Regions from separate parts of the Homo sapiens genome. Here regions 1, 2 and 4 are each reported to be linked to region 3. The links are microRNA targets in miRTarBase. Many come from high-throughput screens and were not tested one by one. Region 3 holds a microRNA gene; each other region holds the end of a gene's coding sequence.

Region 1 (7,118 bases), not on the chromosome of region 3:
GCACACACCACCACACCCAGCTAATTTTTTGTATTTGAGACAGCATTTTACCATGTTGCCCAGGCTGGTCTTGAACTCCTGGACTCAAGCAATCTGCCAGCCTCAGTCTCCCACAAAGTTGGGGTTATGGGTGTGAGCCACTGTACCCCGCACTGATGGTGTATTTTTTAAATGAAATGGGCAAGCTGCCTATTTCTGTGTGCCTAGTACCCTGTGGCTCAAATGGAATATTCTTATCTTTGATGAAACAGTGGCTCAATCTAATGGGATACTTTTAACATTAATGGAATTGTATTTTACCTTAATGCATGGAAACTTGAAACTGTGTTTCAAATGCCAAATTATCTGAAATGATTCTATTGATATAGTTCCTTTTATTAGCAAAAGTCTTGACTGACTTTGTACCTGTGCCAATAGTTTGAGAAATGATTGTTTTATTGAAAATAAATGAAAATTTATGCTTTTAAACAAGAGTAATAAAATGATTAAAAACCATGAAATTCCAGTTTATTGTCAACCTTCAATGTGATCAGAAATCATAGGTATTATTATAATAAAATCTGGGCCTCGATGCAATGTTTGAGAGGATTTCTTTGTTGACATTGATTTTCTAAATAGATAACTAGATTATTAGGATCTCATTAATATGCTGATCTGCCAGTTAATTATATATTTTTTATTTTCAGAAAATGAACAAGTTTCAGCAGTCTAGCCTTTGGATGACCTATTTGAAAACCACTGAAAGTCGTGGAGGAATGGGCAAGAACCACCTCATGATTCTGCAGGCCATTGCTAACGAACAGCTCATTGCTACAACCAGTCCAGAGGTTTTATTCCCTCTACTCCGAGCAATGAAATAGACCTGAGTTATGCTTCCTTTCATTTAATTTCTGCAGATAAATAGTTTCCTGAGCAATGGATGCTATGCCTGGATACCAGTCTCCACTTTGCACGCCGGAACTGCCTTGGGACCACAGTTACAGAAAAAATGTAAACTCAGAGTGATCCTTGTGTATATTGCTATAGATTTTTCTTTAACAAGCTATTTTAAAGATAATGGCATTATTATTTCCAAGCCATAGCTTGGGCTGAAGGACAAATTGAAATTGTCTGCCAATACCAAGGATATTCTTGTATATTTGAAAAATAACTTATTATTTGAATTGTTGTGGTTTTGTTTGTATTTGAGAGCTCTTGTTAGCTGATATTCATGTTTGAGGTCATAAAATTGTCTCTGGTCTGACCAAACAGAAGTCATCTTTACAGAGGTGATATGCTTGATCTACACAGAGATGTGACTTGATCTGTAGCACCAATGCAATGTAGGTCTCAGTTTGAGAGAAATAGGAAGCCCTTTGCAGTTGAGGTGTTAGGAACCTGCTGGTCATGGTGTGGAAGGCCAAATGAAGCTGCCACAGGGTTTCTTGTCAGTCCTTTGGGAAATGGGAGGGAGTAGTTTGGGGAGGAGGGTGGGAACCCTAATTTCCACAGAATGAAATTTTGATGTTAAATGACATGTATACAAATTCTTCCTTAAGTGAAAGTTATGCTGCATCGAATTGTAACTGAAAGTATAGATCCAACAAATAGAGACTGGGTTCTAGAGAGTTCTGGTCTATAGAAACCCAAAACTAAAATCTCTCATAACTCAAGTATGGAATACTTTTTTTAAAGAAATTCTTATCATGGGTGTTGTAATAATGAAGACGAATTTGACTTTATGCAGTGTTCTGCAGCATGCCTCCCCCACATCTCATAGCACCAGGTTGTGTCTGACCTGACATACCCTGCAGCTCTCAGCTGGCTGCAGTAACATTTTGTGGGAGAAAGAGGAGCTGGAGTTACAGAAATGATTGTCTCTTGGTTCTCAGTTTTTAGCCCTTGAGAGGACATACTTTTCCAGCCTCATGGGTATGGCACTCTTAATTAAAATTTCAGTGACTGTTTACTGGATGAGGCAGATTTTTCACATTTTTGCAAATTAAATATATTTTATATATATTAAGTTTAATTTTTTCAGTTTTTTTAATGTAAAAGCAAGTGAAATTTTAATAAACTTCTGTAATTACCAAAAAAAAAAAAAAAAAAAAAGCCAAAGCCATTAACGTGCACTACCCAGATCAACTTGGAGCCAAAAGGGGTTTACTTCTGAATGGCTGTCCGTATGTGTCCACATAGGATTTAGTTGGTTTGTGGCCTCCTTTATAGAAATGTGTTGTCTTTCCCTAGCTGTCTCTGCTGTCTGTCTTCCTGCATATCCCCCTTCATTTTAAAATCATGAATCAGTTGTAAGTGGTAAATGGTAGTAGTTCATCTTTCCCATCAACATGATTGTCTCTTTATTTTAGGAATAATAGCATTTCAAAAATTCCTGTGGTAAAGAAACATTAATCTGAAACTTAAGCCTTAGAAATTAATCGCAGGTATGATAGAATGAGGCTTGGTGGTTCCATAGCTTTCTTGGTCCTTTGAAATGGGAAATAACCTGAACCAAAAATCCTAGTTTGAAAGTTACACTTCAGTGATTTGGCCTATAAACAGTGGTCCTATGATTATACATTTTTTCCTTCACTGATTTGCATAATTTTGTTTTCATGGCCACAGCAAAACAATGTGAAATATATTTTTGCTATACCCACTTTTTTTATCAAATTCAGATGTCTACTCTCACCATTTTATATTCATTTCCCCAGAAAAATGTGCTGTTTTCATAATGTCTTTATTTAGCAGGTCTTTCAAACCAAATGGAAGCCTTACCTGTCTTTGTCCTTAATAGTGTAAATATCTTGCACAGAGTGTTGAGGCCTATGGTTTTGGACTTGCACCTTACAGCTGCCTTTGTTTTATCTATCTAGCTTTAACTGTGAGTGTTCAGATCAGCTGATCACATTGATCAGGAGCCAAAGCCAAATGCTTTGTAGTTTGTTATGTATGTATCCCTTAAAAAATCATGAGGTTTTGATTTTTATATTTTAACTAAGGGTACATTCCTGCCTTCTCTTAGTTTGTCATATGACTAGAACAAGAGAAGTCTTAAGCTGCATTTACTCCAATTCCAGATCTCCATTTGTTTTTGTTTTATAAATTTATAATCTTAATGAAGAGACTAGTGCCCTCTCTTCCTGCCACAACTCTCAATCTGCCAAGACTGTTGAAGCAGTTAACGCTCAGTGCAAACTTTTGCCAAATAGTAAGTTTCAACAAAATATCTTTATAGTGAAAGATTTTGAGAATTAGTAAATCCAGTACATGATTCCATAAAAGCTTATTAAAGTTAATAATTCTAATTTACTCCAAATGATTACTTTCAATATGATCTTTGGGGAGAAAAAGCCTTTAGTGAATTTTCTTGAGGGTGATAAATCACATCATTGCGATCTATATCACCTCCTTGAGAATCTCTCCCAGGCTGAAAATGTGATGGTAATCATGGGTGTTTTTAAGAACAAATCTAATTTTTATCAAGTGTTCTTTCCTCTACAAAAAAGGAAGGAGGAGAAAAAGCTTCCTTAAAACTGATTATTTTGATTCAATTTTAAGTTTCTAAAAAAGGTGATATTAAAGTATATGTATTCCTTCAGCATTACCTTAAAGGCTAGAAAAACGGGATAAATCTTCAGAAAAGTGTCAAAAGTGTCACAGTACATGTTCAAATTTAAACTTGAATCCTGGTTCATCTTTGACTTTTGTTGTGCATTTTTAATGCTTCTTTATTTTTGATACACAGAATGCAGTTGAACTTGATCTTTTAAAATTGAGACATGTAAGCTAATCAGCAAAAGACAGAAACAAAACTGCACATCTGTAATAATCAGATAGCAATTCTACTGCACAATTCATTGATTGTAAGGTATCCTGTAACAAGCAATGTTTGTCTCCTATTTTTTGATACCTCTTAAACTTATGTCTTTTAGAAAGACAGTGCCTCTGTATGCTTTTTGTATTTTTACTGAGTGTAAATATTTGTTATATTTTTGGTTAAGAGAATGTAAAAATACCATTTATTATTATCATATCTACTAATACATTGGTGGAATCAATAAAGAATCTACATTAATCTTCTCTGTACTTAATTATAAATGTATGGAACTGATGAAATAATTACAAACTTAGTCATTCGAGAGTGCCAGTCTGGGACCTGTGTTGGTGTGAAGGCCTTATTTTTTAACTATCCAGAAAAATTGGAGTGGTCCATTTGTTGTTGGTTATGTCAAATCTGTGAAACACCATAGCTATTGTTTAGGTTTAAAAAATTGTGTTTGATGGCATACCAAGTTAACAGTGGCTTAAACTCAATTGGGGCTTGTCTTTTTGTTATTGTTGTCTGTTTCTTTTTCTTCTTACAGTAGAAAAGTCTACAGACAAAACTGTCCGGGGCTGATACTGTAACTCCTCCACGATGCTGTCAAGGATGGCAAAAGTAGGGGTGAAAAGGATAGGCTTAGGTAAGGAAAAGGTGCAAATATGTGTCTCTTTCTACGCAAAGAGAACAAAACAGTAGTTTCCAGAAGCTCCACTTGCATGTTTGTACTTACATCCCATTAGTTAGACCTCTGTTGCATGACTGGTAGCTCCAAGGGTGCCTTGGAAATTATCTATTTTATCTGAGCAATTGATGTTCCTAACAAATTTAGGACTCTTCAGTGAAGAAGGAAAGAATAGATTTCAAATGGGCAGCCAGCTGGGTCTACGAAAGCATGCCTATTGCCCCCTCTTTTGGGCAGTATATGTAAATACAGCCACTTTTATGGGATTAGATCCCAGGACCCTGGCAAAGTAGAAGGAAATTCTACTTTAGCTCCTTTTTTAAAATCTCCTCACAGTTTTCCCTCGGTACCCAGAGAATGTTACTCCCATTATAGCTAAGACTTCTACCTTCTTCCAGTTCACCCCCTCTTCACCAGGTTTTCCCAGGCCATTCTGTCCCCCTGACCATCTCTCCACAGTCTCACTAGTTTCTTTATTTAGAAAATATATTTCTTCACCGGGCATGGTGGCTCACGCCTGTTATCCCAGCACTTTGGGAGGCCGAGGCAGGCGGATCACGAGGTCAGGAGTTCAGGACCAGCCTGGCCAACATGGTGAAACCCCGTTTCTACTAAAAATACAAAAACTAGCGGGGCATGGTGGCGGGGTCGTGTAATCCCAGCTACTTTGGAGGCTGAGGTAGGAGAATCTCTTGAACTCAGGAGGCGGAGGTTGCAGTGAGCCAAGACTGCACCATTGCACTCCAGCCTGGGCAGCGAGCAAAACTGTCTCAAAAAAAAAAAAAAAGAAAAGAAAAAATACACATATTTATATTTGTATCAGATGGCACTGGTGAAATGAAATTTTTTTTAAGTAGAAAATAAGTATAATTGAAAAACGGCTACCCCAAAATATCAAGCTCTAATCCCTGGAGAACTTGTAAATATTACTTTATTTGGAAAAAGGGTCTCTGCAGATGTAATTAAGCATTTTAGAGATGAGATTATGAGTGGGGCCTGAATGCCATCACAAGTGCCCTTGTAAGAGAAACAAAGGAAGATACCAGAAGAAGGCAACATGAAGATGGCAGAGAGGGATGTAGCCACAAGTCGAGTAATGTTGACAGCTTCCAGGAGCTAGAAGAGACAAGGAAGGTATTCTCTCCTAGAGCCTCTAGAGGAAATGGTGCCTTGCCAACATCTTGATTTTGGATTTCTGGCCTCCAAAATGGTGAGATGATGAATTTCTGTTGTCTTAAAGCCACCCGATTTGTTGTAATCTGTTACAGCAACTCTAGGAAACAAATGCAAGTTACTATATATGTCTGATGTCAGAAATCCAGTCCCTGCAGTTAAGGATGTGTTGGTCCAGAAATACACTTCCTTTAACTTCTTCCACCCCCAAGAAGCACTTGATAGACGAAGAGAAGAACTGGCTCTCCCAGAAGGTGCCTCTGGAGAAGCCTGGTCAGCCTATTATTTTTCTCATTTCAGACATTCTGGTAAGTATATACTGGTATCTTGTGGTTTAAATTTTAATAGTGACTAATAATGCTAGGCATCTTTTCAAATACTTATTGACCATTTGGACCATTTTGTGAAGTCTATTCAGGTCTGTAATTGTTTACTATTTGTTGCTACAGTATTGAACTATTGATTTTTATAATGACCTTATATCTAGCTCTCTTGCTCAGTTCATTTATTAATGCTAACAATTTGTGGATTCTCTTGGAATTTTCTGCATACTCATATCTGTTCATAATAACTTATTTATTTCTAGTCATTTTGTATTTTCTTTTCTTGTCTTTTGTTGTTGTTGTTGTTGTTGTTATTGAGACGGAGTCTCGCTCTTTTGCCCAGGCCGGACTGCGTGGTGCTATCTCGGCTCACTGCAAGCTCTGCCTCCCAGGTTCACGCCATTCTCCTGCCTCAGCCTCCCGAGTAGCTGGGACTACAGGCACCCACCACTGCGCCTGGCTAATTTTTCGTATTTTTTTTTTTTTAAGTAGAGACAGAGTTTCACCGTGTTAGCCAGGGTGGTCTCGATCTCCTGACCTCGTGATCCGCCCGCCTCGGCCTCCCAAAGTGCTGGTTTCTTTTCTTGTCTTACTGCACTGGCCAAAATGCCCAGTATAGTGTTGAATAGAAGTGGTCAGAGTGGGCCAGATCCAGTGGCTCACACCTGTAATCCCAGCACCTTGGGAGGCCGAGGTGGGAGGATTGCTTGAGCCCGGGAGTTCGAGACCATCCTGGACAACATGGTGAAACCCCATCTCTACAAAAAATTAGCTGGGTGTGCCAGTGCACAGCTGTGGTCCCAGCTACTTAAAAGGCTTAGTTGGTAGAAGGATCACTTGAGCCTAGGAGGTGAGCTTTGATCACACTACTGCATTCCAGCCTGGGTGACAGAGTGAGACCCTGTCTCAAAAAGTGGTCAGAATGGAATTCCTTTCTTTGTTCCTGATCTCAGCGAGAACGCATTCGGATGTCACCGTTGAGCATAGTGATTGCTGTAGGATTTTGGTGGTATTTATGAGTTTAAGGAAGTTTTATTTATACCTTGCTAAGAAAGTATATGCTGTTGAATTATGTCAAATGCTTTTCTTGAATTTATTGAGATGATCAAATTATTTTTCTCTTACCTGTTAGTCT
Region 2 (7,118 bases), not on the chromosome of region 3:
ATATAGTTCCTGCTCTCACAAATTTATAATCTTGACAGGGGGAATGAACAAGAAAGTAGAGAAGGGGAAGAGGAAAAGAGAATAAAACTGCATTGGCCTCTTAACTGTCTCACTTATTTCCTCAGGCAATAAGCCTTATGTAAATGTACGTGATGAATACCATGAGATAACATACAACCCAGTTATTTTGGGTGCATAGTAAAGAATCTCATATTTGTTGCTGGAATTAGTGATGATTCCTATAGTAGTTTTGAAGGAACAGAATTACTCAAAGGATCTGTAAGGAGCTATAACATAAGCTATTACCCTTGATTTTTAATGTAAACAAACTCTCTGGCCCAAATCTGTATTTAAATGAAAGTGGCAGAATTTGACAATCTCATAGACTCAGTATGATTTTATGATGCTTTTGTGACTATGTTACATTGAAAGCTTGGTATCTTTTAAAGCTGCCTCATTGGAAAAGGGCACAGAAGGTGATTTCAAAGTTACTTTAATTTAATGACCACTCTTATTCAATTGTTTTCACAGACCATAAACAGGACTGAAGAATGTCTGTCTGAATCTTTGCCTTGAATGAAGAAACTTCATTGAACAAGAAGTTGGCTTCCAGTTTGCACAGACGTCAATGGAATGCATTTTTTTGTTGTTGTTGTTGTTTTTTTTTTAGTGTTATACCTTACCCAATGAAAGCAAAGTTTTTATGTGCTGTGCAAATGGTCTTCATGTGGTCTGACAATTTATTTTTGCCATCATTTTTTTAATTAAAGAAAAAATTTCCAGAAGAGGAAAAAAAAACTACAAAAAACAAAACATTGAAGGTTGATATTTTATGTGGAAGAACATTTGAATTGAATTCAGAATTTTTCTGAAGGTGTAGATACTTTTTTTTTTTTTTTAACAGAAAACCTGATGTCAAGAGGTGGGCAATAGAAATGGAAACAAATTGTCTTCCTCAATAATTAAGCTACTTTCTCTTTTTCCCTTCTTGTTTTAATCTAGTGGGTTTTTTATTTTATTTTTTCTTAGAAATATGTAGGTAAGGTTTATCTTGAATCTTAATTGCCTTAATTTTAAGGACGTCAAAGGCTCTCGAGGCAAGCTGTCAACGTCTTGTTGAAAACAAAAATCAAGAAAGAATTGAAATACTGTGCCGGCTTTCACTGGCACAGAAGTTTAAGACTATGAGTTTTTAGGGTGAAGAAAAAACTGTACAGTTTAAATGAAAATGTTTTTCTTCATTTGAAGAAAATTTGTTGATAAACCATGGCAACTGCAAGAATTGGAAAAATGCTGGGACTTTTCATGAACTTTGTCTTAAGTGTTGACATGAATCATTCTAAAAGGCTAAAACATTTTACAGTAAAGTTATTAAGGTTGGTTTAAAAACAACTGCATTAGAAATAATGCGTGTTTGGGGGGCAGAATGCAGATTTTTTTAATTTACAAAGCGTGATCGCTAGCAAAAGCATTAGTGCTTTTTATCTGCAGTCTTTTTTATGAGCTTTACAAAGTTTTTAGTCAGCTTTGCTTGTCACATTGCAAAACCTAGCTTAAGAGCATTAAAAAAAAAAACTTAAGTAGATAGGAGCTTATGGTCAAAAAGTGCAAAAAAAAAAACAAAAAAAAAGCAATAGATAGAGAAATTGTTGACAATTTCTGTAGTCTTTCCTAGTTGTGATCAAATTCAGCCTATGGATGGCCTATTTTATACCAAAGATGAAGTGACACCCTATTACAGTCCAGAAGATAGAGGTTGTTTTCGTTTCTTTTCTTTTTAAAAAAAAAAAAATTTATTTGACCGACATGGCCGGACCAGTTCTTTCTTTGTTGTTTGTTTAAACTACCTTCCACTGGTGTTTTACATAGTGCAAAAAAAAAAAGAGGGTGGGGGGAGTTGTCTCTCTTTTCTTTAAATGTGTATTCATTGATAGCAGAAGCTTGTACCTGCTGTGTTTAGCAGTTTCAGCATGAAGAGTTCTGGATATGAACTGATTCATAGAGCCAAGTGGCTTTAAATTCTGTGAGCTTTTCTGGTTTCTCACTAGCTGTCTTGAATAGTGAAACCTGTATTGATGGCCACTAGTAAACCAAGATGCTTATTTAACAGGTGGAATATTCTTTATATGAAATTTCAGCTAAAGACACTTTCTGGACCTGGTCTGAAAGGTCATTTGTCAAAAAAGCTTAGGGATATTCTGTGAAATGGTGAGTGGTCTCCTGGAAAGGTCTCATTGTATTTGAACAATAGTCTTCCCTCTAAATTACAACACCTCTGGGTTTTGTCTTTACACCTCTGTCTTTGTCATCACCTACCATGAATAGTCACCTTGGTTTTGCAAATGGGGAGGGGGTATCATCTTTTTGCCTGTTTTCACTGTATTTTTGTATATTGGTGTTGCCGAAAGAACTTTTTCTTTCAGTTTAATTCTTTGAGGCATGTAGGACCAATAAGATTGAGAATTCTATTGGTGGAATTTAGGGAAGTCCTTAAAATGCTAGTTGACAATCAAGGAACAGTATGATTTATATCAATAAGAACCAAAAGAATTAGGTTTGATCAATCATTTAAGCCAAGGAGGAATACTTGCATTTAGAACAATGCAAAACTTTGTCTAAAATGAATTAAATTGACCCACCTGTAAAATATATCTACATTTTTAATTCATGAGATGATATGTGTTCAACCTTTACAGTTTTACCTGAAATTAAGGACAATGGAATAGAATTTGTTAAGTGAACCATTCACTAGATTGCTTTCTGAATGAATCCTTTGAATCAAATAGGTGAAACTCTTTTCAAAAACTAAGTCAGTCACAGGAGCCTGTCTTAGTCCAAAAGAAGCAGGGAAATGTATTTAAGTGTACTATAAAACAGGGTAGGCTTTTTAAAAACTAAAAAGTTTTAAAGGTAAATCATATTCCCATTAGGTCAACATGAGTAATAAGGTTGACTCATGTGAAATTGTCAATATTCTACTATTTCTGTAAACTCTGGTTCTCTTATTTGCAACCCCATGCACTGGAAGCCCAAATCAGAGAATGACTCCATATATTTATGGTCACATTGGAGACAAAAGTGTATCCAAGAAAATGTAGTGTGCGTTATAGAGAAATTCCAACTGGTCACACTCACCATTATGGTTTTTCATGCTTTAGAGAAAATGCTAGATTTATACTGTCTTTTGTTCCATCCTTCAGCTTCCCATGCATTATAAAGGTGGCACTTAAGTTTTTATCTTTGAAAAGTGGGCCCCAAAGTTTTTTGGGGTACAAAAAGACATGTATGAGAACCATATTTTCTGTTTCTCTTTTTCACTCTCTAAACTCTTTTTGTATAAATAAGGATTATCCTGGGCATAATTCATTTGAATATGAAACCAACATACTTTCTTTCATTTTTGTGAAAAAATAACCAAAAACATGTATTAATGTGATACAAAGAAAGTCTCATTCACACAATCAACAATGAGGCTAAGAGGTAGCTACCATGTGGCTAATGAATGTGCCTAGGTAACTTCCTGTTTCTATTCAAAACTGCTGCTTTATTTGTACATTCAGAAATATTTTTTTCAACTATGAAATTTCAATATCAATTTTTTAAGCCAGTTTCTGCAAAAGGAAATGACCTGTCATTTGATGTGTTCATGTGTGTTTTGTGTTTGGATAGTTTATATCATGCCATTCTATAAAATGTATGTTTTCAAACCAAAAAGAAAAAAAATAGAAGGAAAACAACGGCACATACTCAAATTTGCCCTGCTTTGTCTGTTGTCTTACCTAAGACTTGTTTTGAAGAGCCAAGTCTGGGAGAGAAAAAAAAGCATCAACAGGTAAGCAGCATTACATTGTGTGGTAATAAACCAAAATAAGTTTTCAATATATACAGACAACAGAATTCAAATTTAATCAACAAAATATATTGTAGTGATTTGTTTGTTTGTTTGTTTGAGACGGAGTCTCGCTCTGTCGCCCATCCTAACTAGGACTATAATCTTTTTTTTTTTCTTTAAGTTGAAGTTAATTTTCTGTGCATTCTGGTCCACCAGATTTTCAAGCATTTATTTGGATGTTTCCATTTTTCCTTTTGACTTTAATAGCCAAGACTTAGCTTAAACATCAGGAAACAAACTAAAGCCACAATCCAAATGAGAGAAACACTGTCTCGTCTAAACTCTAGTTTCATGGTCAGTGCAACAGTGAGTTTTCTTTTAATAATGGTATGGTATTGTCAAGGGAGGCAAAGTGTTCATGGTAACTTGGAGCTCCCCAATACATGGCCATGTCTTCTAAAGACAACGTAATGAGCCCAAGTGAACTGAAGGTCATACTGGCAGGTGCTGATGACAGTTTGTCCTTGAATGCTGACATGTCTTGAATATTGCAAATGTCATAATACTCTTTTAAAACAGTCCTCTACCTGACTCTAGTTTTGCGAGGATTAGTTTGTTTCCTTGGTAGATTTCAACATTTCAGAATGTTACCTCCAAATTTCACTTGAATTACTTCCTCCTGTGACCTTAGCAGATCTGTCACATTTGAAAGCATATGACTCACTTCCACCCCCTTCTAATGAAAAACTGCATGGTGTTAAAAGCACTCTCATTAGAAATATAAGGCTGAGAACTGAAGAAGGCTGTTTAAAGCAGGAATTTCACTTTATTTTACTATGCCTAAAAATACATCTTTGGACCCCTTGCAAAGTGCTTTAAAAGTACTTTCAATTTATGCATGACTCCAAAAAAGTAATTTTTTTTTCCCAAAAAAACCTCTTTATTTAAATAATTGGGATATTTGCTAAATACCTATTTTTTTTTACAGTGGCCTAAAACCCCTATTAATGAAAAGTGAAATTTGATTTAATTAGGACTCTTGCAGTCATCTTCACGACTGAGGAGAAGTTTCAATAGGCTGTCTAGACATTATGATGTTAATAGGAGATTAAAATACATTTGGCAATTCATTTTCATTCTTAATTTGAGTGCATGAACCACTGCAGATGAGCTGATAAGCAGAAATTCTCAAGTGGGTTTCACTAATAAATGTTTTTTTATATGATTTGAAATCAAGTAAAGGGACAATGTTTATGTACGTGTATAACAACATTCAGCACATTTGAGGAATCACACACTATAATAAAGCTTAAACCTGTCATAGAACCTTGATCTATATTACTTTGTCTTCAGTAAAAAGTGAAGGATGAGATTTTGTCTTTCATGTTATTGTAGCTGGCATGCTTCAAAATTTTGAGCTTACTGGGACTGACAGCCTCTCACTTCAATCTGAGGGATTGACAGAATTTAAACAGGCTCATTGATTCTGTACACTCTACCCTTCCTGTGGCAAGTGATAATGGGATTTCATTAATGAATCAATTTGTTTTACAAATGACATCCACTGTGGCATTGGAAGACAGTTGGGTCTGACTCAAGTTTAACATTTCTTACCAAACATTCTTAAGTATGAAATTGGTCCTTTAATCCAAATGCTCTTGGTCATGGCTGTCCTTTGCGGATTACATAGCATTCAGGAAAGTACAAAAACTAAACACTAAATCCCCAACTGGCCCCAAAGACCTTTTATGATGTGAGAGACAAGAGTTCACCCCAGATTAATTTCTTTTATCATTGGCTTTATACTCTAACATATAGATACTCTCTATAGCAAAAAAGGGATGAATGGCTTTCAATATTCATTTCTGTTTATTTTTGTGAGGGAAAATAATATATCAAGAAAATTTTCTTCCACTTAGAAAGCTTTAAAGCTGAAGTAGAGGTGCAGTCAAGCTTGGATCTGCAGGAAGAACCACTAGGCCACTGAGTCATACTTGAGCTTTTCTTACTACTGCCCCAATTTCTAAATTGTGCATAAATACAATCACTCTCAATTTTTGAAGGGCTAATTATCTACTTTGTGGGTGTGTTTTGTTTTTTCTTTTCAGCGTGTAGGGCTTGGGCTCTGTTTCCTTTTATTAGCATGTCACCTGAGGGTGGAACAAACAATTGGAAATAAAATTTGATTATTTTATTTCTTATAAAGTATTAATTTCTTAAGGGGGTTTGAAATCATTGGTAAAATTAATATCAGTACATTATATGTCATAAATTTTGATTATCTATAATGTCTTTTCTTATCTACCACAAATAATTGAGAGTTGGCTAAATTCTTGCAGAATATATGGGAAAAAAATCATAGCAAAGAATTCAGCTTCCCTCAAAAGAAAGCTATTTTTGTTTCCTTCACTCCACTAAATTTGAACCAGTAGCACGGATCAACACGACTTCTGCAATGAGAGTATAACGGTAGCTCTTGGTACAGTCATATTCATATTTTTAAATCTTTCTTTGACCAAAACTATTGCATTGTTTTCATTACATTTTGACTGCGTTACTTATTAAGGCCGAATGACTTTGACACCCCCGTGGATTATTTTTATGATCACATCAAATTTAAACAATGTCCAAAGTGTAACTTTAATGTTATATTTTGTTTCAAACCCTCTGGTCTAAGATTATTGAGAAAGATGTTTTTTCCTCCTCCCTCAAATATGTTATCTCTTCATATATAAAAAAATAAGTTATTCCATGCTTTTCAGGAACTGTAAAAATTATTTCAAAAAGATATTTGAAAAAGTTTTCTCTATTCTGGACACAAATGCTTCCATTTATTTCAAAAGAAGAAGAAGAAAAATGGAATCTTAATTTAAAAAAATATATGTAGTAGTATCTGCTATGAGATATTCAGTCTCTATAAAAAAAAAAAGGGACACAGCTTCTTTTAAAACCCTTGTTTCAGTCCATATTCAACTTCATGGAACTTCTGAAACATCATTCAATTTTGAACTTTATTTAAGAGCATTTTTGTACTGCTGTCTCTGACTGTCATGGAAAGTTCTGTAATTCTAAGGTGTTTCTGGTTTTATTTTTAATTTCTTCATCTGTACCACAGTCAAATTAGCAACCATCTCCCCCATCCCTTGGGCTTTCTGTAGATCAGTGGATGTTAGGTTTAAACTTCTGTTTTCTTTGATGAAGCTTTCAATAAAAAATGAAAATAAAATCAATTGAATAGGGCTGTTGTGTTTTTCTGCACTCATCCAGAGACTGGTTGTGGGAGGAG
Region 3 (7,103 bases):
AGGCTGGGAATGGGGAAAAGGGGTGCACGTGCTATTGGGGCTCTGGGGTCAAGGCTCGAGCAAGCAGCACGCTGCTGAGGAGTCGTGGGTTCAGGTCCCCATTCCTGCCTCTCACTAGCTACAGCCCTGCTGAGCTGGCTCCTGGGCCCTAACCAGGACATGAAAGAATGCATGTGATGCTCACGCAGCCAGGGGGTGGCGAGTAATAAACAGGAGCCCCCACCAACACCCCCTGACCAGGACAGCTTTGCAGGCAAGGAACAGGCGCAGGTAAATAAATAGCTTGTTTATTAGTAATATGTTACATTATTAAAGTGCATTGAGAAGAGGTGCAGGGGCCAAAGCTGGAAGGCCACTGGCCCCAGCCACTGCCCTGGGTGGCCAGACACAGCCGGAGAAGGGCCCAGCTCCCCCCTGAAATGGATGGACAGGGCTGGGGGCAGGGCCGCCTGCCTGGAGAGCTCGGCCCAGGCCATCCCCACCGGAATTTTCACAGTTTAGCCTAAGTTATAACATGTCCTGAGCGAAGGTGGGAGGCTAGGAGCATGGAAGCACAGCCCCTGGGGAAGGGGGCTGAGAGGAAGGGAGGAGGCCCCCCGCCCCCCAACCCTCAACGCCAAGGGCAGAGTCCTGGAACCTCCCCCTGAGGACCCGGCTCGTCCTTCCAAATGAACACGGTGAAACTAGGGCTCAGTTTTCTCCTTCATTCTCCCGTTTCCCTCACCCCACCCCCTCCCATAACCACCCCCAACACTAGGGGCTCCAACAACGTCCCCCTCAGACCGGGCTCCCAGGGCAGAGCCAGCTCATGCCACTCTCCAAGAACCCATGCCCGTCTCCAGACTCTTATCTCATCCCCGGGAGCCTCAGACTGGGATCACCCCCGCTCCCCAACCCATCCCTTCCCAGCCCCTCCCTTTCCCACCCACCCCCCCGCATGTAGTTTTGGTATTTTCATACAGATGCAGTCGGAAGTAGCTATACATGAAATAAGCCTAACATAAAAATAGAGCTTTTTCCGTCCTTCCGTCCGGAAAGCAAACATCCTTCAATAAACATGCAAGGCGGCTGTCCTGTGGGACCCAGGACCAGAGAGGGAGCTGCAGAGGACAGGGCTGGACAGAGGGTAGCCCTGGGTCTTCAGGAACACCAGCCACCCAGCCATGAGAGAGGGAGGGGAAGGAGGCAATGTGGGTACCAAGAGTCCAGAAGGACTCAGGCCTCAGCCCCAGGGTCGAGATGGAGTCCCAGCTCTCCTATCCAAACCCACTCCCCGACCCATGGGCTCTTGGGCTGGGAGCATCGCTGCATTTAGTCAAGTTTGAGGAGTCTGAAAAATATTTTCCAGAAGATAAAGTCTTGGGTCATCGATGCCCCAGCTTCACAGTCGGTGCCCTCATTCTCAGCCCCTCACCATCCGTGCGCCACCTGGGGCCCAGCAGCCGCCTGCGGCTGGACGTCTCCAGGCCTGGCATCCTCCACTGGGTTATTCTGTCCCCTGGAAGAAGTGGCAGGCAAGGAGCTCCCGGGCCAGCCGGCTCTGAGTGTGAGACGTTCTAGTGCCCTGGGCTGCAGAAGCCTGAGGCATGCCCAGCCTCGGGAGGCCCTAGTGGACCAGCAAGCCAAGAGTGAGTGTGGGCAGCACCCCCAGCCAGAGGGAGGCGGCCAGGGCACAGGCATGACCCAGCAGGTGCTCGGCCATGATGCCGTCCTCGGGCAGCAGCTGCCAGTGCTGAGCCTCGCGGAAGTAGGAGCCCTCCTGGGCCTCGCAGAAGTAGTGGCCGTACTGCTGCGCCGTGAGGTTCTCGATGAACAGGATGCAGTTGGGGCTCTGGTGACCAGGTTCGCAGCTCTGCTCCACGTTCTCCTTGTGGCGCCATGAGTAGGTGGCGTGGCGGGATTCCATGGGGCAGCTCAGGTAGTAGCGAGAGTTTGGGGCCAGGGAAACCTTCTGCAGTGGGGCCTTGTCTGGGGAGGCAGTGGGGAAGCAGCCGTGAGGAGGGACAAAGAGCTCCCAGGGGAGGATGTGTCCTCCCCACGGACTGGGATCCCAGGACAAGGCTTCTGAATGAACGTGGGGAACCCAGCCCTCAGCGTCCTCCTTTTTTCTCCCGTCTCGCTCATCCCACCAAGAGGGCTCCCTCTGCAGGACTGTATCCTGCCCCATGTACCTGGGGCCCACAGGACAAGGCCATGTCTCCCTCAGACCAGGACAATCAGGGCAGGGCAGTACCCCACTCATTGGGCCACAGCCGCCAGCAGGGCCAGATCAGGTACCTGGTTTGGGGTTGGGACACTCCTTGTGTGGCTCGGCTGGATTAATGGATTGCAGCACTGACCTGGAGTGGGAAGGACGAAAGAGGATCAGCAGATACAAGGCTGCAGACCTGACCCTCCTATCCTTACCCCAGTGCAGTTCCAGCAGAGAGGAGGGTCCCACAAGAAAGGCCCAGTACCGCCACCTCCTCCAGCCCGACAACACCTCCCCCTCTCCCATGCCCACCTTCTCCCAGGGACGAGGGATCCCGGCCAACGTACCGTTCGGAGCTGTAGATGGAGATGCAGCGGCCTTGGTCCCAGCCGCAGTAGGGGTCTCGGGACATGAGGCAACCGTGGCAGCCCCCGCCATAGACCTCACACAGGTCCAGGGGCACCTGGCTCACCTCCCACTGGGAGCTCACATACAGCTTCCTCTGGAAGGACAGCAGGATTGGGTCAGGCCCGGGCCCCACCCCACACTCAGTCCTAAATGTCCAGGCCCTAAGGCCTAGAAGCTCTTAAAAGAACACACAAATCACATGCAAAGGAGCCCTGTCCTCAGCTGCAGTCACTGCATAGCCCATGGGACGCAGTGGGGGAAGGCTCACCCGCTCAGCATCCAGCGACATGGTCTGGATGGCAGCCGCGCGGCGGAAGGGCTGGATCTCCATGATGTTGAAGGCGAAGCTGTGCTCCTGCTCCCCCGGTTCCACCACCTTGTGGATAGTGCCCCTGTCTGTGTATGGTGGACAGAGGGTCAGTGGGCGGGAGTCCCACTGAGGGGCCAGGCAGCTTTCCTCTAGGCCGGGGAGGGGTGGGAAGTCACAACTCAGGCAAGGGTCACAGGACTGGTGTGGGCAGGGCGAGGAGAGCGTGACTGGGGAAGAATGTGGGAGCCTAAGGGCAGCCTGGAACCTTCCAAGGCTGATCCAGAGAGGCCATCCCAGGAGGCCCAGGGGTCCCTGGATACGGCCTCCAACATTCCCAAGGCTGCACGGGAAGAACAGAAGCAGGAGCCCCACACCAGCAAGGTCAGTGCGGCTGCTGTCCATGCATCACCTCGTTTAACCCTCCACAGCCCTGCGAGGTGGCTGTCATCTTCCCCACTCCACAGATAAGGAAATCAGGCTCAGAAAGGCTAAGCCACTTGCTCAAGGTCACACAGCTGGTGAGCAGCAGAGACCGAGTTGGAACCCAAATCTGTCAGAGCCCAACCACTCAGCTGCTTCTACAACTCCCCTGCCTCCTGGACTCTTAGGGAATATATTTACTTTAAATACATTTTTTTTTTATTTTGGAGTAATTTTAGATTCCCAGAAAAGTTGCAAAGATAGTACAGAGAGCTCCAATCTACCCTTCTCCAGTTCCCCCTAATGTTACCATCTTACATAACCACGGTATATTTGTCACAACTAGGCAACTGACATTGGTGCATTACTATTAACAAAACTACAGACTTTATTTGGATTTCACTAGTTTTTCCACAAATGTCCTTCTTCTGTTCTAGGATCCAATTCAGGACTCCACGTTGCATTTGATCTTAGGGGATATCTTAATTTTATAAAATCTTAGATCTAAAAAGGATCTTGGATTCTAAATCAAGAGTTCCCAAGGTCTTATAACCGAGCTGCCTGCCTCCTAGACCAATGCTCTCTCCGTTCACAATTAGGGACCAATGGGCACCCTGACCCCTGGTCCTCCCAATCCTACCTCACCTGCTCTCCCAGTTTCTAGAATAGCCTACCTCCCTCTCTCCCTCCCTCCCAATTTCCCAGGGCATCACCTGCCCCAAAAAAGCAGTCAGATGATTGCCTGCCTAGGATGTTTCCTCTACACATCCGTGATCCTCATCTGTGGACTCTGAGATGTGGCCAGATGCTCCTTGGGCCTGATAAGGCCCCACCCCAGCCACTGCCTTCACAGACATACTGCCCTATACCTCCTTCCAAACCAGCCCCAGTAACAGCATACCCTTGGCAAAATTCTCAGGAAAAGAGCCAATACTTCTCCCAGTTGTGAGAGCCTCCCATTCTCTGCAGAGGACTTAGAAAGCTCTATTTTTCAGTCTAGCCCAAATACGAATGATGCAGGCTCCAAAATGGTGCCTCCTCCACTGCCCTTAGAACGAAGACACCTTCTCTAATCACTCAAGTGTGCTCACCTCCCAAGTCTGCAGGAAGGGAATCCATGGCCCAAGTCCAGCCTTCCTTGTCCTAGCTCCTGCTCCCAGTTCCGCACTGTGTGACCTCTCCTCTTCTGCTCCCCAGTGCCCTGCCATCCCTGGCTGACCACAACAGCTGTGCCAGCCACTACTGGAGCCAAGCAAGGATGGGGGCCCAAGGGTGTAGCCGGGATGAATAGGGAGTAAAGAGGCAGGGAATCAGGACCCAGGCCCTGCCCTGTGGGAAATTCCTCTCCCCAAGGCTTCCAGGAGCCAAACAATGGTGCTGGGGTTCCAGTTTCCTACAAGGTCACCAAAGCCGAGACAGTTCCAAGGTGAAGCAGCAACAGGAGATCACATGGGGAATGTGAACAACTGAGGTTGGGCGCCTGGGCCTGAATTGAATGGCCCCAGGGGTGCTAGAGGCCCTTTCCAGTCTCAAGGAAGGCAGCTGGCATGGGAAGCTGCGACAAACCCAACTCAGGACTGGCTCCTCCGTGTCCTGTGGCTTTCCAGAAAGCAGGAGCATCTCCCACGGCATTCCACCCAGCTTCCCCCAGCAGGGCCTACTCCAGGGAAGAAGAGAAGCTGCCCCTGTCCTCTGTGAGATGGCAAAGGTTCTGCCCCCTGGAACTCCTTCCTCATACCTAATTTGTGCCCCATCAACTCCTCAAATGTTTCCTCTCACCTGCACAATCCCAAAGACAGGCGCAGGGCCTGACTCCCTCATTCTGCCTGGCAGAGGCCAGTATCCCTGTGGTTCAGGCCCCTCCTCCTCATTTGCCACGTCTCTTCCTACCATCTTCTTCCCTGAGTCAGACATCTGGACCAAAGGTGCACCTGGCTTTGCTCAGACTCTCCAGATTTCCGCCTCCAAATCCCAGTGCTTGCTTTTCTCCCATCCCCCTTTCCCTCTTGCCCCTACCTCCTCCAGGAAGCTCTCCCTGCCTGACTCTTCCACACCCACACACATTAACCCCTGACAACTCCAGTCACTCAATTATTCCTTCCACATGTAAAGATCCAACCAGATGTTAACTACATTATTCCTTACACCTTTCATGCCCGTTTTTACAAAGCAAACTGAGGGTCCCGGGGTAGCCTCTCACCTGTAGTTAGGTAAAGCACATGAAAGGTCTCCCCGTGGCTGGCTTGCATGCGGTGGACGGCCACTTTCTGGTAGTGGTATTTAGAGTGGAACAATGGCGTCTTCAGAGGCCCCATGGGCTCCACCCTCTGCGCCACCTCTGGGTGACGGTCAGCCACCTGGAAGGTCTCTGTGGGTATCGGCTGCTGGTCTGGGAGGCACTGGGCAAGGAGAGCAGGCCCAGGTCAGTGGGGTGGTGGGAGGTGAGGCAGAAGGAGGGCTGGGCCTGGGCCACGGCTGGTGTCACGCTCACCTTGCCAGGCCGCGGGTTGGGAAGGCTTGAGTGGTAGCCCTTGAGTGAGGAGGTACGGAAGACCTTGTCAATGTCACCGAGGGAATACACACAGACGGCTGAGTAGTTCCTGCAGTGACATGGAGACCAGCTCAATGGGGGGCCCAGAACCCACCCATCCACCTCCACTCACCCAGGCCAGCCTTGTGCCTGGCACTGAGTTGCCAACCACCACTGAAAATGGGGAGGGATGGAGAGGAGGAAGGAGAGGAGTTCAGCCTAATTTCTTTGTGCTGCAATTTAAAACCACAAACTTGTATCCTGTTACAGAATCACTGAGTCTAGAGGCCATCTGCTCTACCCAACCCCAAGGCAGGAGGAACCCCATCATAGGCTGAGCAGTTCTCTAGCCCTCCCTGGGCACAGGCTGTGGGGTGCTGATGCCCCAGGAGGCCAGACCCCCAACCCCTTCCCAGCCTGGGGGACCCCACTCACCCAGGAGCCACAGAGCAGGGTCTTGGCTTCCTCCACTCTATCCCTAACTCTCCCCACACACACCCAACACTTCCGCCTGCCGTGTGTTCAATCAATGAGAGTGATTAAGAAGTGTGAATTATCGGGCTCAGGCAGTGCCTGAGCAGGTGTAATAGCACCCAGCTCCCCGAGAGATGCTTCAGCAGCTTCCTCCTGGGCCCAGTGTCCACTCTCGGCACAAGCAGGTGGTGGGACACACAGGCACAAGTGCAGTCATGAGTGTGCATATAGGGCATGCACACACACCCATGAGTGCAGACTCACTCACACAACAGTACATACATCGCACTGGCTGTCCCCCCACCCCACACCCAGCAACAGCCCAGCCTCTTGAGCCTGCAGCCCCTGCTCCTGCCACACCAGGGAGGCCCTCAGCAGGGCCCAAGGCCTCCTGTCCCTACTGGACACTGAACCAATGCCAGCCCCGGCCCCAGGACAAGGGCCACTCACCAGGGGTTGGAGAAAACACCATAGACCCTGGTGTCCCTCCACTGGCCGCTGGGGTCAGGGAGCAGGAAGACGTCTTGCAGCCTGTTGAAGTTCTTGTTGGTGGCAGCATCACTGCATACCAGCATGGCTTTCAGAAAAGTGTTCCACTTGGAGACTGACAGTGAACTTTCCCCACCCTGGTCCCCCTGGAAGGGTAGAGGGGAGAAGAGGCCCCTCAGCACCTGCCCGGGCTTCCCCACACACCCCAGGAAACCACTGCCAGCAATATCAACACCTGGGCCCAGAGGAGGAAGGCAGGCTGTGAGGGGCCAGGACCTGCC
Region 4 (7,118 bases), not on the chromosome of region 3:
GCAGGAGGCGGGGGCTTCCTGAGATGCTGGGGGAAAGCGGCCGGGTGTGCAGGAGAAGGGGCTTCCTGGCTTCATTTGGGCGGAAGTTCTCAGGCCAGTTTGGGTGGCCAGGTGATTCAGCCAGCCTTGCGGCCCCCAGCCCCTCCTGTTGAGGTGTGTACCCTGAGTTCTGAGATGATGGACCAAGAACACCAGCGGGGCTGTTGCCCAGGGAGATTTGGAGGGAGGCTCCTGGAAGGCCCTGCCTGGATCTGGGAGAATGTCCATGTGAGCCCAACTGAGAGAACAGAACACTCCGGGGTGCCGGAAGGCACTGGAATGAGTAGAGCATGGACCCGGTCCCCTGCAGGTGTTGTTCTGAAGGGTGCAGTTCCTCTCAATGGGGCAGCTTTTTTCTCACAGGCAGCTTCAGACGTCAGGCCCCATCTCCCTCCCTGCGGCTTTCCTGCTGGGCAGGAGCGCAGTGCAAGGCTGGCCCCAGGCCTCTGACTGCTTGCAGGAAGATAGGGGCACGTGTCTTGGGTGGTGTGGAGGCCTGGCCAGTGGTTACATGCATGGTGTTGGGGAGGCTCAGGTCTGTGGCTGGCCGGCCCCAGTTGTGCCACCTGCTGCCCTGTTGCCTGTTGCCCTGCCCCATGAGGACCGGCTCCTTCACGGCCAGTTCTTCATCTGAAAAGCGGAGGTGCTGCCACTGCCTCCCGTGGTGGTTGTGAGCACCCCAGGCATGTGTGCGCCCCCATGGCGGGGCAGCTCGTGGCCATGTGTGGGTGTTGGGCCTGTGTGATGCTGGCATGAAAGGTGCCCCGTTCCCTGGAATTTCCCGCTGCTTTCTTCCTCTAGAATGCATGTGAATTGGGAACAGGTTCCTTCTTATGTTGTTCAGCAGCATAAATCATACAGAAAGCAGGGTCCTGCCGGCACAGACTGCACCAGGAGCGAGTTCTCCTCTTCCAAGTTATCTGAGAACAAAGTTAGGACACGCGGTGAGGGTGGGGGAGGGGCCGGGGCTCCACACCTGAAAGTCCCTCAGGTCCGTGCTGGGTGGCTTTTTCCGTAACTCTGCACACGAAGCTCACGTGGACCAGAAAAACAAGGTGGTCACGACCCCAGCCTTCATGTGCGAGACGGCACTCCACTACATCCATGATGGGATCGGAGCCATGGTGAGGAAGGTGCTGGAACTCACTGGAAAGTGACGCGCATGGACGGGGCCCAGCTAGGCGCCAGGACTTGGCCTCACCCTCTGGCTGAGGAGCTGTCGGCTGCTTTCCATCCAGCTGGGAGTCTGGCAGGCCCTTTTTTTTTTTTCTTTGCCGAAACCTGCAGGCGTTCTCTCTCTAAGGAGGATGTGCTGCAGTGCATGGGGGATGTTTCTTCCTGGGTGTGGCTGGGCTGCTCTCACATACAGAGGCCGAGGGGCCAATTCGTTCTCTGCCACAGGGACTTGCCTCACTGTGTCCCAAAAACAAATCGCAGCCAGCTTTTCCAGAAATAGAAAATTCTGCCGTCTGAGGTTTTATACTTCAGGTTAGTTAGTTTTTGGAAGGAAGAACATTTTTAGGTTTGCAAGCCTCCTGATCAGGAAACCAGAAATACCACATTTATGGACCATGAAAGGTTGGTTCTTGACTCTGAAGGGACTTTTGAGTTAATCAGCGTAAGGGGATTTCTAAAGCAGGCAATCCCTGTAGCCGCAGAGAATAAACGCCTTCCCAAAATGGCAACTTCCCACAGCCACATTTCAGACCTGCTGAGACTGCTGAGTGAGGAATGGCAGTGAGGTTTCTTCAATTAGTCTCAGTTCTCTTAATTTTCAGGAAGAAAGGGAAATTGCAGCCCCTCAGCCCCCAGGATTGACCTCTGGGGAGTGATGGTAGCGTTGGTGCCAGGCCGTGGGTTCAGGTGTGGCAGAAGCTTGCAGATGCGTCCGAAGGGAAATAAAGTGTGTTGGCGTTAGACTTTGTGCTGCATTCATCTGTGTGTTCAGGGTTGTTTGGGGAAGAAAACATTTGGGGTGGGAGTCAGGTGTCTGCACGCTTCACTCAGTGTCACATATCTGTTGCTGTTTGGGTCTGTCTCTGCCTGAGCAGCCAGGGCCAGGCCAGCCTGAGAGGCCCCACGCTGGGTGGGTGGCAGGAGCTGCCCAGTGTTGGGTGGCGGTGTGGGAAACGCCCACTCTGGCTGCTGGCGTGGCTGTTCCGTGTGGTCTGGTTTGCACCTCCCTGTGTGTCAGGTGCTGGGCCCGGAATGGGGGTGCAGGCCCTGGTCCCACAAGACTCGAACCCTCAATTGCACTGGTACCCACCACACCCCCTCGGCCCTCCCCACCCACTGCATGGAATCAGCGGATTCATTCTACCGCCTTGAGAGGGCGTGGGGGGCCCATGGGTAAGGCAGGAAGGCCCCGGTGCACCCTGCATCGGGTCTCAGCCGGACACTTCTGGTTCTTCCTCCGTGGGAGCTGGGTTCTCCAGTGGCCTTCCTCCCACGGAGGCCGGGCCTCAGGAAGTCCTCACGGGCGCCCACGCCCGCTGCAAACGCCCACAGCACTCGCCTTGGGGCCAGGATTACCCTGTCCCCAGCAGCGGAGGAGCCTCCCATGTCCAGGGTAAGGTGGGGCTCCTCCCCTTTCTCATAGGCTGGTAGGGACACATTTTGCATGGCTGGAGGGGGGGTACCCGTATACCACGCATGTTTATTCACGTGTGTGTGAGTGTATGGAAAAGTGCACAAGTCACAAGCATTCACTTTGGGGTTTCCACAAAGCAAATACGCAAAACCATCGCTCGGGCCTGGAACGGTGGCACTGTCCCCAGAGCCTCTCAGCCTCCTGCAGGCACTGGCTGCGTGCTTGTTTGCGCGCTCTCTCTGAGGTGATCCAGTGTGGCGCCCCACACGCAGGTGCTTCTGCTGGGCCAGGCCTGTCCTCACCTGCATCTGCCCTTAGCCCAGGTGGCCCTGTGGGTCCTCAGTGTCCCCACTTGCAGATGAGGCTTTGCTCCCCCCAGGGCCCTGCAGCTTGTAGGGCTTGGCTGGGACTCAGCTCCGGGCAGCGCAGCACCAGAACCCCAGCCCTAGAAATAGATCTTGGGACGTTGGGAAGCCCAGAGAGGGGCCGTGACAGAACCGGAGAGCTTGGTCCTGGGTTCACTGCAGGAGAGTTTGGTCCTGGGTTCACTGGACAGTGACTCCGTGGCTGCTGCGTGCCAGGCACCTTCAGGTACCAAGGGCATTGTCACGAGCATGCCCTCGTCCTGGAGTTCAGGTGGGGGCAGCCAGTATGTGGCCCGGTGAGCCATGGAGTCCCCCTGGCAGTGGTGGGGGTGTGGACATGCTGGGAAGGAGGATGGCAGTGCCAGGCATGCATAAAGTGATCAAGGAAGGGGACAAGGGGTCCAGTGGGAACAGGAGCTAACCAGGGGTTCAAGGTCAGGGCGTGGGGAGGGAGGGGCGCTGGTGACATGCATGGTTCCCGGGACCAGCCCGTCCTGCCATCCCAGAGGCCTCTGCATCCCACAGGCTGTGCACCCTGGAACGTGGTTGTGGCTTTAGGTGCTGCCACCAGGGGGCGTGGCAGAACTGTCTTTGGGGCTGACCACGGGCAGGCGGCCCCTCACCAAGCTGCTTCCTGTTGGTGCCATCAGAGTCTGGGCTATCCTCTCCTGAAGCCCTCTCTGGTCTCCACATGCCCCACCCCTTTGCCCTGTCCCTCTTGTTTCCTTCCAGGGTACCTCCTCACCTCCTGTCCAGGTCACCAGAGCTTCACCTGTGGACATGCCCCATTCCCTGATAATCCTTTCTTCATTCTCCATTTCTCCACCACTCCCAGCTCCCCCAGCACTCCCAGCTGCTCCACACTCAGTCCCCTGCTCCACACTCAGCCCCCAGCTCCCCCACCATTCCCAGCTGCTCCACACTCAGCCCCCAGCACCCCCACCACTCCCAGCTCCTCCACACTCAACCCCCAGCACCCCCACCACTCCCAGCTGCTCCACACTCAACCCCCAGCTCCCCCACCACTCCCAGCTCCTCCACACTCAACCCCCAGCACCCCTACCACTCCCAGCTCCTCCACACTCAACCCCCAACCCCCCCACCACTCCCAGCTGCTTCTCCATTCCCACCTGTTCTTCCTTCCTGGTGTTCTTCTCCCCAGACCTGGTCTGACTGTCCCTCCCAGTCCCTCATTACCTGGGGATGGACGTCTTCCGCTCTGACCTCCAGGCTCTCTTGAAGGCTGCTCCTTCCCTTTCTCCCCCTGAGCTCCTTGCTGTCTCAGACCCCTGCCCAAGGAGGCCTGTAACTCCAGCCCTTCTCTGTGCACTACACTTGGAGTGGGGTACCGCCCACTCAGCATATCCAGACTGGGCCCCCCACGCGTACTTCTTCCTGTCTCTGTCTTGGGGGCCATCATGTGCCCAGATCCCCATGAGAAACTGGTCCCAGCCACCTGTTTCTCCCTGCCCCTCCCTCTGCCGCCAGCTATGGGTTTTGCCTCCAAATATGTCCAAGCCACCCCCTTCCTCTCCTGTGCCTAGACCGGGTTCATGCCTACTCCCCACATCTGGTCCTGACACCTTCCATCCCTCCCTCCTGGGACGACCAGCCCCCCTCTTTGTATTACTGGCTCCCCTTGTCTCTCGGCTCTCAGCATCACTCTGCAGAGAGGACTTCCCAGCACGCCCTGGCTGAGGAGGGGTCCCTGGGCCACTCGCTGCACAGATCTCGAGGTCTGTGAGTACACATGTATCACAGCTTTGTCATCTGTCTCCCCACTGCACTGGGAGTGTCAGGAGAGAGGATGGGGGCCTCATGGGTGCCCTCCACCTTCCCCGGCCAGGCCCGGGCTCTGAGGTGGTGGGCTCTGGGCATGAGCAGGCCAGTGCGTGCTGCGAGGCCCAAGGCTCACGGACCTGACACGCCCACCTTGGTGCCCGCCCTCTCCCAGGCCCCTCCCACCTACTGCTGGCCAGCGTCTTCCTCTAGGGCTCCCTCAACATCACCTTTTCTGTTTTGTTTTAAATAGACTTTATTTTCTAGTGCAGTCTTAGCTTCATGGCAAAATGGAGCAGAAGGTACAGAGAGTCCCACACACTCCCTGCCCCCACGCATGCACGGCCTCCCTCACCATCACCCCCGCACACCCCCGCCCGCCAGAGCACACATTTATTAAGGCAGCCAACCCACACGGATGCGCCATCACCCCGAGTCCACGGCATCCGTTAGAGCCCACTCTTGGTGTTAGCCATTCCGTAGATTGGGACAAATGTAGGACACGGGTCCGCCATTTACAGAGAATGCAAAATGGTTTCATTGCCCTGAAAACCCTTGGCTCTGCCCGTTCCTCCCCCACCCTCCACCCCCGTAACCACTGATGGTTTTTACTGTCCCCACAGTTTTGCCTTTTCCAGAATGTCATGTGGTTGGACTCATGCACTATGTGGCCTTTTCTGATTGACTCCTTTCGCCTGGTAATAGCATTTATATTTCCTCTGTGTGTTTTCATGGCTTGACAGCTCATTTCTTTTTAGTGCCGAATAATATTCCATTGTTTGGCTCTACCACAGTTTATCCATTTACCCTCTCTCAAGAGCATCTTAGGCTTGTCCCAGTTTGGGGCATTTATGAATAAAGCTGCTATAAACACCGGTGTGGAAGTTTTGGTGTGGACATACATTTTCACCTCTTTTGGGTAAATCCCAAAGGGGATTTACCAGGGAGTGTGATTGCCGGATCATATGGTGAGAGTTTTGCAAGAAGCTGCCAAACTGTCTTCCCAAGTGGCTGCACCATTTTGTGTTCCCACCAGCAATGAATGGGCGTTCCTGTGGCTTCACGTCCTCACCAGCATTTGGTGGTGTTCGTGTTTTGGATTTTGGCCAGCTGATAGGTGTGTAGTGGTATATTGTTTTAATTTGCTATTTCCTACTGACATATGATGCTGAGCCCCTTTTCATGGCTTATTTACCATCTGCGTATCTTCTTTGGTGAGGTATCTGCTCAGAATGTTTGCCTATTTTTAAATTGGTTGTCCCTTTTCTTTTTGTTGAGTTGTAAGAGTTGTTTGTAAATTTTGGCTCGTAATCCTTTCATGGATATCTCATTTCTAGTTATTTTCTCCAGGTTTGGGGCTTGTTCTTCTTATTCTCTTGACAGTGCCTTCACAGAGCAGTTTTTAATCTTAATGAAATCGAGTTTCTCACTGGTTTCTTCTTGGATTGTGGTCCGCCCCCGCCTTATTAAAAAAAGAAAGAAAGAAAGAAACAGGGTCTCACTGTGTTGCCCAGGCTGGTCCCAAACTCCTGGGCTCAACTGATCCTCCTGCCTCAACCTTCCAAAGTGCTGGGATGCCAGGTGGGAGCCACTGGGCTCAGTCTTGTGTTTTTAAAACTCATCACCAAACCCTCGGTCATCTAGATTTTCTCCTGTGTTATCTTCTAGGAGTTTGATAGTTTTGCATTTCACATTTAGGTCTGTGATCATTCTGAGTGAATTGCTGTAGGGGTGGAATGTGTGTGTTGGGATTCATTTTGGGAATGTGAACGCCCCGTTGTTTGGCTCCATTTGGTGGAGGCTGTGCCCCATTGCATTGCTTTTGCCGCTTTGTCACAGACCAGTTGACTCTCCATGCGGATTTGTTTCTGGGCTCTCTCTCCGCTTTCACTGGTCTGTTTTGCCAACACCCTGTCGTGAGTACTGTAGCTTTATAGTAAGTCCGGAGCCTGCCAAGTCTTCAGAGTTGTAATCTGCCCCTATCAGATGTCCAAACCATGCCCCCAGGGCCCTGAGATCAGATCCCCAGGAGGGCCTGGCTGGAGTACCCATAGCCCTGAGCGCCAGGAGAGCAGGGTCTGCCTGCTGTGGGAGGTCTGTCCTCGTGAGGCCGGACACCCAGCCCTGGTTGTCCTGGTCCACCTGGTATGACCCTGCCCTGTTCCTGCTTCTCCCAAGCACCCGTGACCCTGGGAAGCCTGTCACAAACACCTCCCTGGACAACCCATGCTACAGAGTGCACCACGCCAATTGCCACCACAGCCTCAGGCAGCACTGTCACCCACAGCAGAGGCCGCCCTCACAATCTCACACTTCAGGAGCCCAGGTGGGACGCTAGCCAGGGT

What was found. The annotated mature microRNA hsa-miR-6881-3p reads AUCCUCUUUCGUCCUUCCCACU and lies in region 3 at 2,344-2,365, opposite strand. An mRNA with a match to its seed (bases 2 to 7 or 8) in the 3' UTR can be bound and repressed. Matches are read on the target gene's strand: a 7mer-m8 pairs with bases 2 to 8, a 7mer-A1 pairs with bases 2 to 7 and ends in A, and an 8mer does both.
Region 1: miRTarBase lists RAPGEF6 as a target of hsa-miR-6881-3p. Seed matches in the 3' UTR shown: 7mer-m8 at 1,828-1,834.
Region 2: the mRNA of RBMS3 is a reported target of hsa-miR-6881-3p. Seed matches in the 3' UTR shown: 8mer at 784-791.
Region 4: miRTarBase lists GATD3 as a target of hsa-miR-6881-3p. The part of its 3' UTR that is shown has no 7-base or 8-base seed match.

The regions. Positions count from the first base shown.
Region 1 is chr5:131,420,860-131,427,977 of GRCh38, reverse strand. RAPGEF6 (Rap guanine nucleotide exchange factor 6) reads left to right here. Exons shown (of 28, transcript NM_016340.6): 28 at 687-4,057. The coding sequence ends at 712. It overlaps LOC105379173 (a long non-coding RNA gene), which reads left to right and starts at 5,276. Exons shown (of 3, transcript XR_007058929.1): 1 at 5,276-5,968.
Region 2 is chr3:30,003,325-30,010,442 of GRCh38, forward strand. RBMS3 (RNA binding motif single stranded interacting protein 3) reads left to right here. Exons shown (of 15, transcript NM_001003793.3): 15 at 532-7,062. The coding sequence ends at 538. Among named protein-coding and RNA genes, the nearest start is that of RBMS3-AS1, 73 kb to the left of the region's middle.
Region 3 is chr15:74,409,018-74,416,120 of GRCh38, forward strand. It overlaps MIR6881 (microRNA 6881), which reads right to left and starts at 2,415; the gene lies at 2,340-2,415. It overlaps SEMA7A (semaphorin 7A (JohnMiltonHagen blood group)), which reads right to left. Exons shown (of 14, transcript NM_003612.5): 8 at 6,784-6,968; 9 at 5,821-5,929; 10 at 5,530-5,728; 11 at 2,868-2,995; 12 at 2,539-2,693; 13 at 2,278-2,339; 14 at 272-1,968. The coding sequence ends at 1,607. RefSeq lists enhancers at 223-723, 367-626, 2,632-3,132, 3,133-3,633.
Region 4 is chr21:44,143,754-44,150,871 of GRCh38, forward strand. GATD3 (glutamine amidotransferase class 1 domain containing 3) reads left to right here. Exons shown (of 7, transcript NM_004649.8): 7 at 1,068-1,958. The coding sequence ends at 1,196. Among named protein-coding and RNA genes, the nearest start is that of LINC01678, 13 kb to the right of the region's middle. RefSeq lists an enhancer at 2,450-3,109.